Linked DNA regions of Homo sapiens: region 1 is linked to region 2. Evidence: fine-mapped expression QTL. Tissue or cell type: whole blood. Region 2 holds a variant in brackets; the other region holds the start of a gene. All regions are shown on one strand. Distances are between the middles of the regions.

Region 1 (5,518 bases), 85 kb after region 2:
TGGGTGTGGTGGCGGGCACCTGTAGTCCCAGCTACTCAGGAGGCTGAGGCAGGAGAATGGCATGAACCTGGGAGGTAGAGCTTGCAGCGAGCCAAGATCGAGCCACTGCTCTCCAGCCTGGGTGACAAAGCGAGATTCTGCCTCAAAAAAAAAAAAAAAAAAAAGAATAACCTGCCCCTTTAACCTACCAACTCTCTTCTCCTCTTTAGTTTGTTGAAGCAAAAACAACGTAAATATTGCATTAACCAAGTGTGTGTATGAGAGAGAGAGAGAGAGGAGAGAGAGAGAAGAGAGAGAGAGAGAGAGAATGAGCAGTTATGGCTCTTGGCATTTTTTACTGGACAAGGCAAACCTAAAGATTTTACTTTTAAACTTGAATTAATGCTGAGAGTAAGTCACATCTGCCCTCACTTCCCTCCCACTCCACACAAACATGCATACCACTGGAAAGGCAACATTTTATCAAAGGCATTTGGCGTTTTTCCTCTCTTATGACCCTCTAGAAGCTTGAGAATGTGGGAGAGAAGGGCTGGAACCAGAAATGGAGAAGTAGTGCTGGAACAATAATGACCTGAAAGCCAGTGGAACTGAGGTCTCCTGCAGGAACTTTTGGGGAGGCCTGGATACTTTGGAGACCAATGGGTATGGATGGAAAGAAGAGCAGAAATGATTCAGCTCATAAAGCAGTGAAAAGGAATGATCTAAGTACATGAACAAATCTTTAAAGCAAAATGTTAAAGTGTGGGAGCAAGTTCTACAGAACACATACAATATGATACTTTTTTTTTTTTTTTTAAAGAGACAGGGTCTCACTCTATTGCCCATGCAGGGGTGCAGTGGCACAATCAGAGCTCATAGCATCCTTCAACTCCTGGGCTCAAGCCATCTTCCCACTTCAGCCTCCTGAGTAGCTGGGACTTCATAGGCAGGCACCACCACACCCAGCTAATTTAAAACAATTTTTTTGGCTGGGCGCGGGGGCTCACACCTGTAATTCCAGCACTTTGGAAAGCCGAGGCAGGCAGATCATGAGGTCAAGAGTTCGTAGACCAGCATGGCCAATATGGTGAAACCTTGTCTCTACTAAAAATACAAAAATCAGCTGGGCGTGGTGGGATGTGCCTGTAGTCCCAGCTACTTGGGAGGCCAAGGCAGGAGAATTGCTTGAACCCCGGAGGCCGACATTGCAGCAAGCCGAGATTGCGCCACTGCACTCCAGCCTGAGTGACACAGCAAGACTCCGTCTCAAACAAACAAACAAACAAACAAACAATTTTTTTTTTTTAGAGATAGGGTCTTGCTATGTTGCCCAGGCTGGTCTCAAACTCTGGGCCTCAAGCCGTCTTCCCTCTCAGCCTTCCAAAGTGCTGGAATTACAGTCGTGAGTAACTGCACCTGGCCAACATGATGCCATTTACATGCAGCTTAAACGCATATACATGTGTTGAATCAGTGTCATGTGTTGATGAGGGACATAAACACATTTACTAAAAGTATAAACAGTTGCATGGGAATTAGTAACTTTAAATTCATAAAATTGTACTGGCTATCAGGTGAGTAGGGGACAAGTGGAATGAGGGAATGAGACCAGCTGGGTACCCAAATATTGCTAATGTTATTGCTTAAGCTGTGTGGTGAATACACAGGTGTTCAATTTACTATTATTTCGCACTTTCCGTGTACTTTAGCTATTTGACAATACATTTAAAAATCGAAAACTTATCCCATAATCCCAGGCTCCAGAGGTGATAGTAGGTGGTGTTTTCCAGACCTTTCCCGCTGCCTTGATTTTCTGTTAACTGGCCACCATCCTTGTCTCCTCGCGCTGCCGGTCGCTGCAGAACCCCTGCGCGGAGGGACTGCCAGTTCCCAGGAAGGTGCAGGACAGCTGGAGCCTCTTCTTCTCTGGGCAGGGATTTAAATGTTCTTGGGTAGCCTCGCCAGAGACCTGTGCGGCCCTACAGTGACCTTCTTTCCAGCCACTTTCCCATGAGCTCAAAGCTTTGGATTCTGTCACTTGCAAAGGGTCAGGCCTGATCCCTTGCGGGTTCTTGAGAAGTGAGTAAGACTTCCAGCGCCCCGGCCCAGACTGCGACGACCCAGACTGCGACGACCCAGTCTGCGCCTGGCGCAGGCTCCATAGACGGCTTTTCTTCAGCTCTGTCCACTGAGACCTCGAGCCCTTGAGCAGAAGATGGGAGAGAGAGGGTCTTGCTGGGCGGGCTCCAGAAGTCCTCCTGGCTCTGGGCGCAGGAGTTGGAAGAGAAGAGATAGAGAAACATCTACTCACCAGAATTGTAAACTGGAAGAAGGGTAGAGGAAAGGTGCCTAGAGAGGGCAGCTGGAATCAGGATTGGGCTGAATATTTTAGGAGTCCCCAAGTGCTACTTCTATCCGCTGGGAGCACGGGTTCGAATCTGCCCCCAGGCAGCCCGCTCCTGGTTCTCTTGTCCCCCTGTGCTGCGGCGGGGCCCACTTCGGCCCTCGGGTTCCCCGCACAGGCCACACAGGGCAGCAGCGCGCGCCGTACCCACGGGCAGTTCGAGAGGGCCGCGCGTGGCGGAGCCAGGCCCTTCGCCAGCGCCCAGTACAAATTTAGTACTAGAATTAAGAGAAACACACTGAAATCTGACAGCCCCGCCTAAGACCCGGGCGTGAGGAAGTCTGCGGTGGGTGATGAATACAAAGAACAGTTTCTCTTTCCTGTCAGTAAAACGCTGTTTCCAGAGCCTGCCAGGTTTCGCCCCAGTGGCCACACCTATGCCTGGCAGGTGCTGGTCCGAGCCCCTAGCGCCAGCAAAAGAAAGGAGGCGGACGCAACATTCTCGAATTACTAGGAGAAGGAGGGAGGCTTTCCCTTCCCCCCAGTGCCCCATGTACCAACGCGTCTCGCCATACCCCTTGCCCCTCTTCCAGCAGCTGACGGAGTAATTCGAGTAGGAATCGAAAGATTTGGAGGCGCCGGGGGAGAAACCTGCGGAGCGCTCTCCGAGCCTGTGGCGTCCCAGGAAGACTCCGAGCGGGGCCAGGGAAGTTCTCTGGAGGACATGGGGTGGATACCCAGGTCTCCTTCCCTGGGTGAAATAAGAACTGAAAATCTAAAAATAAAATAAATAAAATAAAATAGAAAACACAGAGAAGCAACAAAAAAGCGCTTCCCCTCCTCAGTTCTCCCCAGTCCACCCAAGGTTTACCAAGACTGTTGTAGTTGCAAGAGTGGGCTTCCGGCTCCACGTAACGATGCGATTGGGCTGTACCTCTGTCTGTCTCCTGCGCGATGTCCCGCCCCGGGAGGTGTCACGGAACTCAGCTGATATAAGCCCGGGATCCCGCCGGGTCAGGTTCTCTGCTCTGGACTTGGGAGGCTCCGTTGCCTGCTCCCGGAGGGAGACGCGCTGCCGAGGAGAACCCAGCGGGTAATGAATCCCCCGCGCTTCTTTGCCCAGGCCTTCCCCAAACCTCCCCCCGGTCTGCGCGGGTTCTCCTATTGGGCTGTGGTGAAGACAAGGTGCGGCGACTGCAGCTCCCCAGGTCTGGGCGCTGCCGGGAGAGAGTCTTTCCCGCTGGGGAGATTTAGTTTGTTGACTCAGGAGCACCTCCAACGACAGCTAGTGGCAGAGGACCCGGGAGCTGGGAGGTTCGGAACGCGGGGCGAGCTGGGGAGGAGGGAGAGGCGCCGACCCAGCGCAGCCTACATCTTAGCAAACCAAACCTGGCAACATTTCCCCACGGTTCAGGAGCACGAAGGACTTAAGGGAAAACGACGAAATCGGGGCTCCCGAGGATGAAGTTAAATGGGTTGTGGCCTGGGGACAAATAGGGCCAATGTCCAGTCTATTACAAGAGGCTTTGTTCCAGAGGCTTGCCTATAAGCCCCTGGCTTGGAACGTCAGTCTTCAAACTGTAACAACAGGGGCAGGCTACTAGGGTAGCCCACAAAGCCCTGTATCCCCCATACAGTGACTAACTAGAGCCCTAGTTGGTCATATCCGCAGTGGCTGAGACTGCGGTGTGATTCCGTTTCCCTCTTGCATGTGTCCCGGGAGCCCGAGTTGTCGAAGCCCAAATTCAGGCTCAGGAACCTGATGTGCTGTTGATGCCAAACACTGACACACAGATGCTTGGAGACAGAGGAAGATTTATTCCATTTGGCCAAAGCGAGAAGGCAAGAGGTCAAGATCTCTCAAATCCACCCTAACAAAAAGAAGTAGTGGGGAGTTTTTATGAGACCAGGAAGTAAGGGAGGGGGAATTTCAGGGAACCTCGGGGAAAAGTCTTTCTTCGTCTCAGATTACATCTTGAACCACCAGACTTCTGGGCGTCAGCAGCTGGTCACAATGCCCTTAAAGGCATTCATTCCTTCTGCAAAATTTTTTTCTTGACTCTGAAGCTATATCCTCCTGCTTGACAAAGAAACGGTGCATCAGCAGTTTATAATTATATTGCTAGAAAAAGGAATATTGGGCAAAAAGTGGGTAGTTAACATATGCAAATAAGCAAGGGCCTCATCGGAATTTTCATGGTTTCATCACTAAAAATGTTGGGGTGCTGAAATCTTGAGGGGCTCGGTTGCACCAGAAGGGGATCCTTTGTCACTAGTGCAGGCAGGAAGGGATGCTTGAGGGAGGATGGGGGGAACTTTTCAATAGTTCCTCCCCTCCCCTACCAATAGCGGGTGGGAGGGCGTTGGTTTAGAGCCAAGCCTCTAGGAGAAGATGAGAGCAATGGCTAAAGTTTGTCTGGCCTCGCCCTATGAGAAGGGGGCGGAGGCTGTGCCTGCCTTTGTGGGGGAAAAAGAAGCCGATTCCTAATCTGTCTGTCTCATGGGAGGTGAGAGTTCCTGTGGCAGGATAACAGACAAGCAATTCAGTGTGATAACATCCTGTGTCAGAAGTATTCATTTAAATGTCACAAGAGGCCGGGCGCCGTGGCTTATGCCTGTAATCTCAGCACTTTGGGAGGCTGAGGCTGGTGGATCACGTGAGGTGGGCGGATCACTTGAGGTCAGGAGTTCGAGACAGCCTGGCCAACATGGTGAAACCCCATCTGTACAAAAAATGCAAAAATTAGCTGGATGTGATGACACATGCCTGTAATTCCAGCTACTCGGAGCCTGAGGCAGGAGAATTGCTTGAACCACCCCCTCCCCCCACCATAAAAAAAGTCACAAGAATTAAACTCTTTTGTTTAAGAAAATAAGCAGTTTTATTATTTCCATGTAAGAGGAAGAAGAGGAAAATGCTGTGATCCACTCCTGGCCTGATTATGAAAATTCACACGTGTTTATAGCAGCCCCACTTTAACCATGGGATATGTCCCAAGACCCTAAGTTGATGCCTAAAACCAGATGCCTGAAACCATGGGTAGCACCAAACCCTATATCTAATGTGTTTTTTCCCTATACTTTCACTGTTTCACTTAAAGAAAGCACTTAAAGAAAGGCTTTTCTTTGGCATATCTGAATTGCCAGCATCACTACTCTGGAGATTTGGGGCCATTAAATAAAATAAGAGTTACT
Region 2 (6,392 bases):
TCTCTTTGCCCACCTCCTCCCCTTCCCCTTCTTCCACCTCCTGTGTTTCTCAGCCCTGGGTTCTCAGGTCCTGCTTGAGACCTGGAGCCTTTTATTTTAAGGTTCATGCATCCTTAAGTTGGAAGGCTTTAGGTGGGAAGAGACTTGGGAACCTGCTTGCTCAACTGCCTAAATTTACAGATGAAGAGTCTGGGGTCCAGAGAAGTGCCGTGACTCACCCAAGCTCATACAGCTAGCAGGGAGCAGAATCAGAACTCAAACCCAGGGCTTTCAGGTCCCATCTAGTGTTTTTGCTGCTCACTTCCTGGGAACTTCAGATTCCCCTGAACAGGAAAATCAACAAAATGTTTAAGGAAATCATTCTCCATGTAAAAACACTTCATTTCTCCACCTTTTTTCTAGTCCTTCTCTGTAAGCATTATATACATCTTTATTTTAACATAAGTGCAATTGGAGTAAACATTTGATCCTGATTCTGCATACCAATGCTTTTTCCATTGCTCTTAGTCTTTTTATTCATGACTTTAATGGCTGCAATATATTTCATCCAGCTGGTCTTGATGCAAATTACTTGGCTTTTTTTCTTGAATTATGTTCTTGGGCTGTGTTTCCAGGAGGAGGATTACCAAGGTGAGATAATAGAACAATGTTCTGAAGATCCAGTCTTTGCACTGGCTCTTCTTGTACTTGGCCCATGGTCCAGGCCTGGGTGGCCGTACCTCCCTCGTAACCCTTATTGCCTCTTCCTCCTTCAGGCTGCCAACAATCTCATTGTCCTAGGCCGTGAGGAAGCAGGGGCTGAGAAGATCTTCCAGAACAATGGAGTAGCCTTGCTACTGCAGCTTCTGGACACTAAGAAGCCTGAGCTGGTGCTGGCTGCAGTGCGGACCCTGTCGGGCATGTGCAGCGGCCACCAAGCCAGAGTAAGTGCCCGGCTGTGGGGCATGTGGAGCAGACGACTGCTGGTCCAAGGATCCGGAGGGTGACGTGTGGTCAGGGCTGTGGCTGGCATCAATGGAACCAGATAAAAAGTCAAAGGGTGCTCCAGTCTCTTTTTCCCTTTCAGTTGGAAATGGGTTTCACTAAGCAAAGACAAGTTACTGAAAGTGCCTAAGGCAGAAGTGATGAATGCAAAGGCTATGATATTTTACATTTTTTCATGCTAAGTCTTTGAAACCCAGTGTGTATTTCACACTACAGCATATCTCCATATGGTCCTGCCACCGTGCAAGAGCTCAACGGCCCCATGTGGCCGGTGGTCACTGTATTGGATGGCACAGCTCTGACCTCCAGAGATGGGCATGGCTTGTTGTCAAGAGGTTTCCAGGACAGAGGGGCCCATGAGGCAATGGCTGCCTGGGCTGATTTCTCTACTGCATGGGATAGGGTGGGGAGGATTATCACACCCTCTCTAACCTGCATGGCAGCTAGAAGGGAGGGGCAAGGCAGCTGACCATGGTTCTTGCTGGGGTTCTAGGCCACAGTGATTCTGCATGCAGTGCGGATAGACCGAATCTGTAGCCTCATGGCCGTGGAGAATGAGGAGATGTCTCTGGCTGTCTGCAACCTGCTCCAAGCCATCATTGACTCCTTGTCTGGGGAGGACAAGCGGGAGCATCGAGGGAAGGAGGAGGCCCTGGTTCTAGGTAGGAAACATTCTTCAGTTTTGATTCAAGGGGATGGGGAAAGAAAAGGTCAGTTGCTACCTCAGACTGGGAATTCCCTGTATGTGGGGGTGGCTTGGTTTTATGTATTTTCTTTTCTTCTCTTTTTTTGAGATGGGGTCTTACTCTGTCACCCAGGCTGGAGTGCAGTAGCGCGATCTAGACTCACTGCAACCTCCTGGATTCAAGCACTTCTCCTGCCTCAGCCTCCCGAGTATCTGGGACTACAGGCACACACCATCATGCCTGCCTAATTTTTGTATTTTTAGTAGAGACAGGGTTTCTTCATGTTGGCCAGGCTGGTCTCAAACTCCAGACCTCAGGTGATCTGCCTGCCTTGGCTTCCCAAAGTGCTAGGATTACAGGCATGAGCCACTACACCTGGCCTGTTATATGTATTTTCTGATTATAAAAGTAACAGGCATAGCTGCAGTATTCACAATTGCTAAAAGATGGATACAACTCAAGCGTCTATTGGTGGGTGACTGGATGAGCAAAATATGGTATATACATACAATGAAATATTAGTCAGCCTTGAAAAGAAAGGAAAATTTGACACATGCAACAACGTCAATGAACATTAGGACATTATGCTAGTGAAATAAGCCAGCCACAAAAAGACAAATACTGCATGAATCCACTCATATGAGATACTTAGAGTAGTCAAATTCATGGAGATGGAAAGTAGAATAGTGTTTGGCAGAGGATGGAAGAGGGGAAATGGCGGGTTATTTTCTAATGGGGACAAAGTTTCAGTTTTGCAAGATGAAAAACATTCTGTGGATAGATTGTGGTGATGTTTGCACAATGATGTGAATATACTTAATGCCACTGAACTGAACACTTAAAAATGGTTAAAATGGGGCCAGGTGCAGCGACTCACTCCTGTAATCCCAGCAATTTGGGAGGCCGAGGTGGATGGATCATGAGGTCAGGAGTTCAAGACCAGCCTGACCAACATGGTGAAAACCTGTCTCTATTAAAAATACAAAAAGTAGCCGGGCATGGTGGCGCATGCCTGTAATCCCAGCTACTTGGGAGGCTGAAGCAGAAGAATCGTTTGAGCCGGGGAGGCGAAGTTTGCAGTGAGCCGAGATTGCACCACTGCACTCCAACCCGGGTGACAGAGTGAGACTCCGTCTCAAAAAAAAAAGGTTAAAATGGTAAATTTTATGTAAATTTTACCACAGCTTAAAAAAAGTAACAGAGGCTTATTGAAGACATTTGGGAAAATATAGAACTACGTAAAAATGAGAATAAATGCCTATAATTACCCATTCAGGTAATCACTATTACCATTACCACATGGATCTTTCCTCTCTTTTTTTTTAAACCATCAATATTTAACAAAATTGGAATTCTGCTATGAATAGTTATATGTTTTTTTCTGCACTGAGCATTATATTAATATTGCATACCATTTAATATTCTTTAAAAGGACTCCTTTGATTTTAATAATTAATTTTACATTTGTTTCCTGCATATGCACATACAGACTCATGCTTCTCCGTGCACATCCAGGTCCTAGGCATCAATTTAGAAGATATTGCTCTGGCTGGGAGGGCCAAAGAGGCAGGTTCACTCAGAAAACTTTATTTTCAAGAATATCATAATCTTCCCTTGTATGGATTATTCATCAATCAGCTCTATATTATTGGAGATTCCAGTTATTTCCAATTTGCATGTTTATACAAAACTCTCCAGGAGCCATTTTTGCATCTATGCTTGCATTTATAATTTATTTTTATTTATTTATATTTATTTATTTATTTATTGAGATGGAGTCTTGCTCTGTTGCCCAGGCTGGAGTGCGGTGGCACGATCTCAGCTCATTGCAACCTCCACCTCCC[G/A]GGTTTAAGCGATTCTCCTGCCTCAGCCTCTGCTAATTTTTGTATTTTTAGTAGAGACGGGGTTTTACCATGTTGGCCAGGCTGGTGTCAAACTCCTGAGCTCAGGTGATCCGCCCGCCTCTGCCTCCCAAAGTACTGGGATTACAGGTGTGAGCCACCATACCTGGCCACATTTATAATTATTTCCTGGGGTCAAATTCCTAGAAAAGGAGCACTGGGTCAAAGGCTATGAGAATAACTAATGTTCTTTCTATATCTTGCTCTCTAATTCCTTTCTGAGAGGCTGCATCAATTTATACTCTCACAAGCAATGATGAGAGTCTCCATTTTAACACATTCTCATCAGATCTGAATGCTATCCTTCTTAAAGATATTTGCCTATCCAGTAGATTCAAAATTATCGTGTTAGATTCAAACTAAATTATTCATCAGATTGATCATTTTTCTGTATCTTTATTAGCCATTTGGATTCCTTTGTCTTTGGATGGTTTGTTCATGTTGTTACCTATTTCTTAATGTTGTTCTTATTTGTCTATAAGAGTTTTTTTTTGTTGTTTGTTTGCTTTGAGACAGAGTCTTGTCTATCATTCAGGCTGGACTGTAGTAATGCAATCACAGCTCACTGCAGCCTCAAACTTCTGGGCTCAATCCTTCCACCTCAGCTTCTGGAGTTACTAGGACTACAGGCTCGTGCCACCATGCCTGGCTAATTTTTAAATTTTTCATAGGGACAGGGTCTCACTTTCTTGCCCAGGCTGGTCTCAAACCCCTGGCCTCAAGTGATCCTCCTGCTGTGGCCTCCCAAAATATTGGGATTACAGGCCACTGCGCCCAGCCCTGAAGTCCTGGATTCTTGATGTGACTCTGACTTACTATTATTATAATGGTCAGCTAGTCACTTTCCTTTTCTGAGCTAGAATTTTTGGAAGATCCAAGATGGCCCTGCTTGTGTGGCTGGCAGTCAACTGGAAATGTTGACCTTGTGGCCTTGTGACCTTGTTGATCTTGTGGCCTTGCTAGTGGCCAGCTTGGGTTTCTATAGAACATGGTGGCTGGATTCTAAATGGACAAGCCCCAATGTGCAAGTGCCATGTAAGCCTCTGGTTGTGCCACAGGTCACATAAGCAGCCCAGGGCCAGTGTTGGAGGAGATTACCCAAGAGCATTTATAATGAGTGTCGTGTTTCCCAGGGAGACACCAATTCACAATCTTCCATGACTTCCTTGGGTTGAACATCTCTGCTACAAAATTCTTCCACATATTGATTTCCACTCTATCCCCTTGTAGCTTCCATCTGCCTCTGGTCCAAAGTCTGCCCTCTGGAGCCTCACAGAAGGAGTCTGTTATCTCACTCTCATGACATGCCTCTGTCTGAAGACGAACTGTCACATCTGCTTACATCTTTCCTTCTTTAGGCGATGGAGCTGTATTCCTTCATCAGTTATTTATCTGACATGGTTTGGAGAGCTTTACTTTTTGGTTTGCCTGCCTTTGGGCTCCATCCTAGAATGAGAACAAAAATCTCTAAGTATCTTGGAGGGCAAAATCAGAAAAAAAGGCATTTGCCTTTTAAGATCTACCAGTGGGCAGGAAGTCCCGGCGTCACAGGCAAAAGCTTGAATTCAGGCTCCCAGCATGCCTGAATCTGTGGGGAGTGAAATGTCCCTAAAAAGTACAAATTCCCCTTCTGGAAAGCATTTTATTAAATCAGTTTATTAGAAACCACATAAAGCATCCCTGGATCTCTGCCAGTCACTGGTAGGAGTGAAGAACTTTCTAAGAATCTGAACTGCTCAAGGATGGAATGAGCTGTTGTAGAAGTCAGGGTTCAGGGTGGCTGGAGGACCACTTGGGGGTGTTGTCTAGGGATTTCTCTCCCTTTTTCCAGGTGAGATGGGCAACACTATACTCCCCTGGGAATTCACATATTCAGGAAGTAGTGGATTCAGTACTTCCAGAGTCTAGAAGCTGCTGCTCTTCTTGGTCATATATATGTGAGATTTCCTACCCCTCTCTACTTACCCCGTCCTCTTTTTCTTCAGACACCAAGAAGGACCTGAAGCAGATCACCAGCCACCTGCTGGACATGCTAGTCAGCAAGAAGGTGTCTGGCCAGGGCAGGGATCAGGCGCTGAACCTGCTCAATAAGAATGTTCCCAGGAAGGACCTTGCCATTCATGACAACTCACGTACCATCTATGTGGTGGATAATGGTGAGAAGAGGGGAAGGTTTGGGGCTTGCTCAAGCCTTTTAAGTGGGCACCAGGGCACTGAACAGAAAATGGAAGATGTGAGGCTCTTGAAGGGGTCTTCAGTTCTAACTGAAAAGATGAGAAAAGGCATTGGCCCATCAGGATCCACCAGTGGGCCTGTGAAGGTGCAGGTCAAGGCTCTGAATTCAGAGCCTGAACATGCCCAGGAAGTGCCCAAACACATCCCCAAAACATGTGGGTGAAGCAACCTAGCAAATGGGGACAAGGACTCCACCAACCACAGGATAAAATTCCAGAAGTCTCATGGTTGGTAAAATACTTCACAGGCCTTTCAAAAGGGAGGAAATTGCATCAAGTATAGTTTATATAAAGCACAGTGAGAATGTTTGTAAACCCAAAAGTATCTGAGACAGGTCTCAATCAATTTAGAAGTTTATTTTGCCAAGATTACGGACATGCCCCGCAGAGAGGAAACACAGAATCACAGAAACAGTCTGTGGTCTGAGCCTTTCTCCAAAGATGATTTTAAGGGCTTCAATATTTCAAGGGGAAAGACAGCCTGGAGGGGAAAGAGGGAGGGTGTGGTCACATTACATGAATGCACATGTTGGAAGAGAAAGGAGGAGGTAGGGGAATAGTCAAATAGTCAATTACATATTTGTCTC

What was found. PIP is the estimated chance that this variant, and not a neighbour inherited with it, causes the effect.
Region 1: it holds the start of SLFN5, and the variant in region 2 is fine-mapped to the expression of SLFN5 in whole blood (TOPMed, PIP 0.99).

The regions. Positions count from the first base shown.
Region 1 is chr17:35,239,728-35,245,245 of GRCh38, forward strand. SLFN5 (schlafen family member 5) reads left to right here and starts at 3,345. Exons shown (of 5, transcript NM_144975.4): 1 at 3,345-3,416. It overlaps LOC105371932, which reads right to left and starts at 4,424. Exons shown (of 4, transcript XM_047437262.1): 1 at 4,384-4,424; 2 at 3,195-3,492; 3 at 2,899-3,098; 4 at 316-2,243. The coding sequence starts at 4,424. The coding sequence ends at 1,796. RefSeq lists enhancers at 3,097-3,156, 3,677-3,786, 3,760-4,388.
Region 2 is chr17:35,153,819-35,160,210 of GRCh38, forward strand. It overlaps UNC45B (unc-45 myosin chaperone B), which reads left to right. Exons shown (of 20, transcript NM_001267052.2): 6 at 756-923; 7 at 1,478-1,646; 8 at 5,557-5,727. Among named protein-coding and RNA genes, the nearest start is that of UNC45B, 9.2 kb to the left of the region's middle. The variant G/A (reference allele first, on the strand shown) is at 3,515.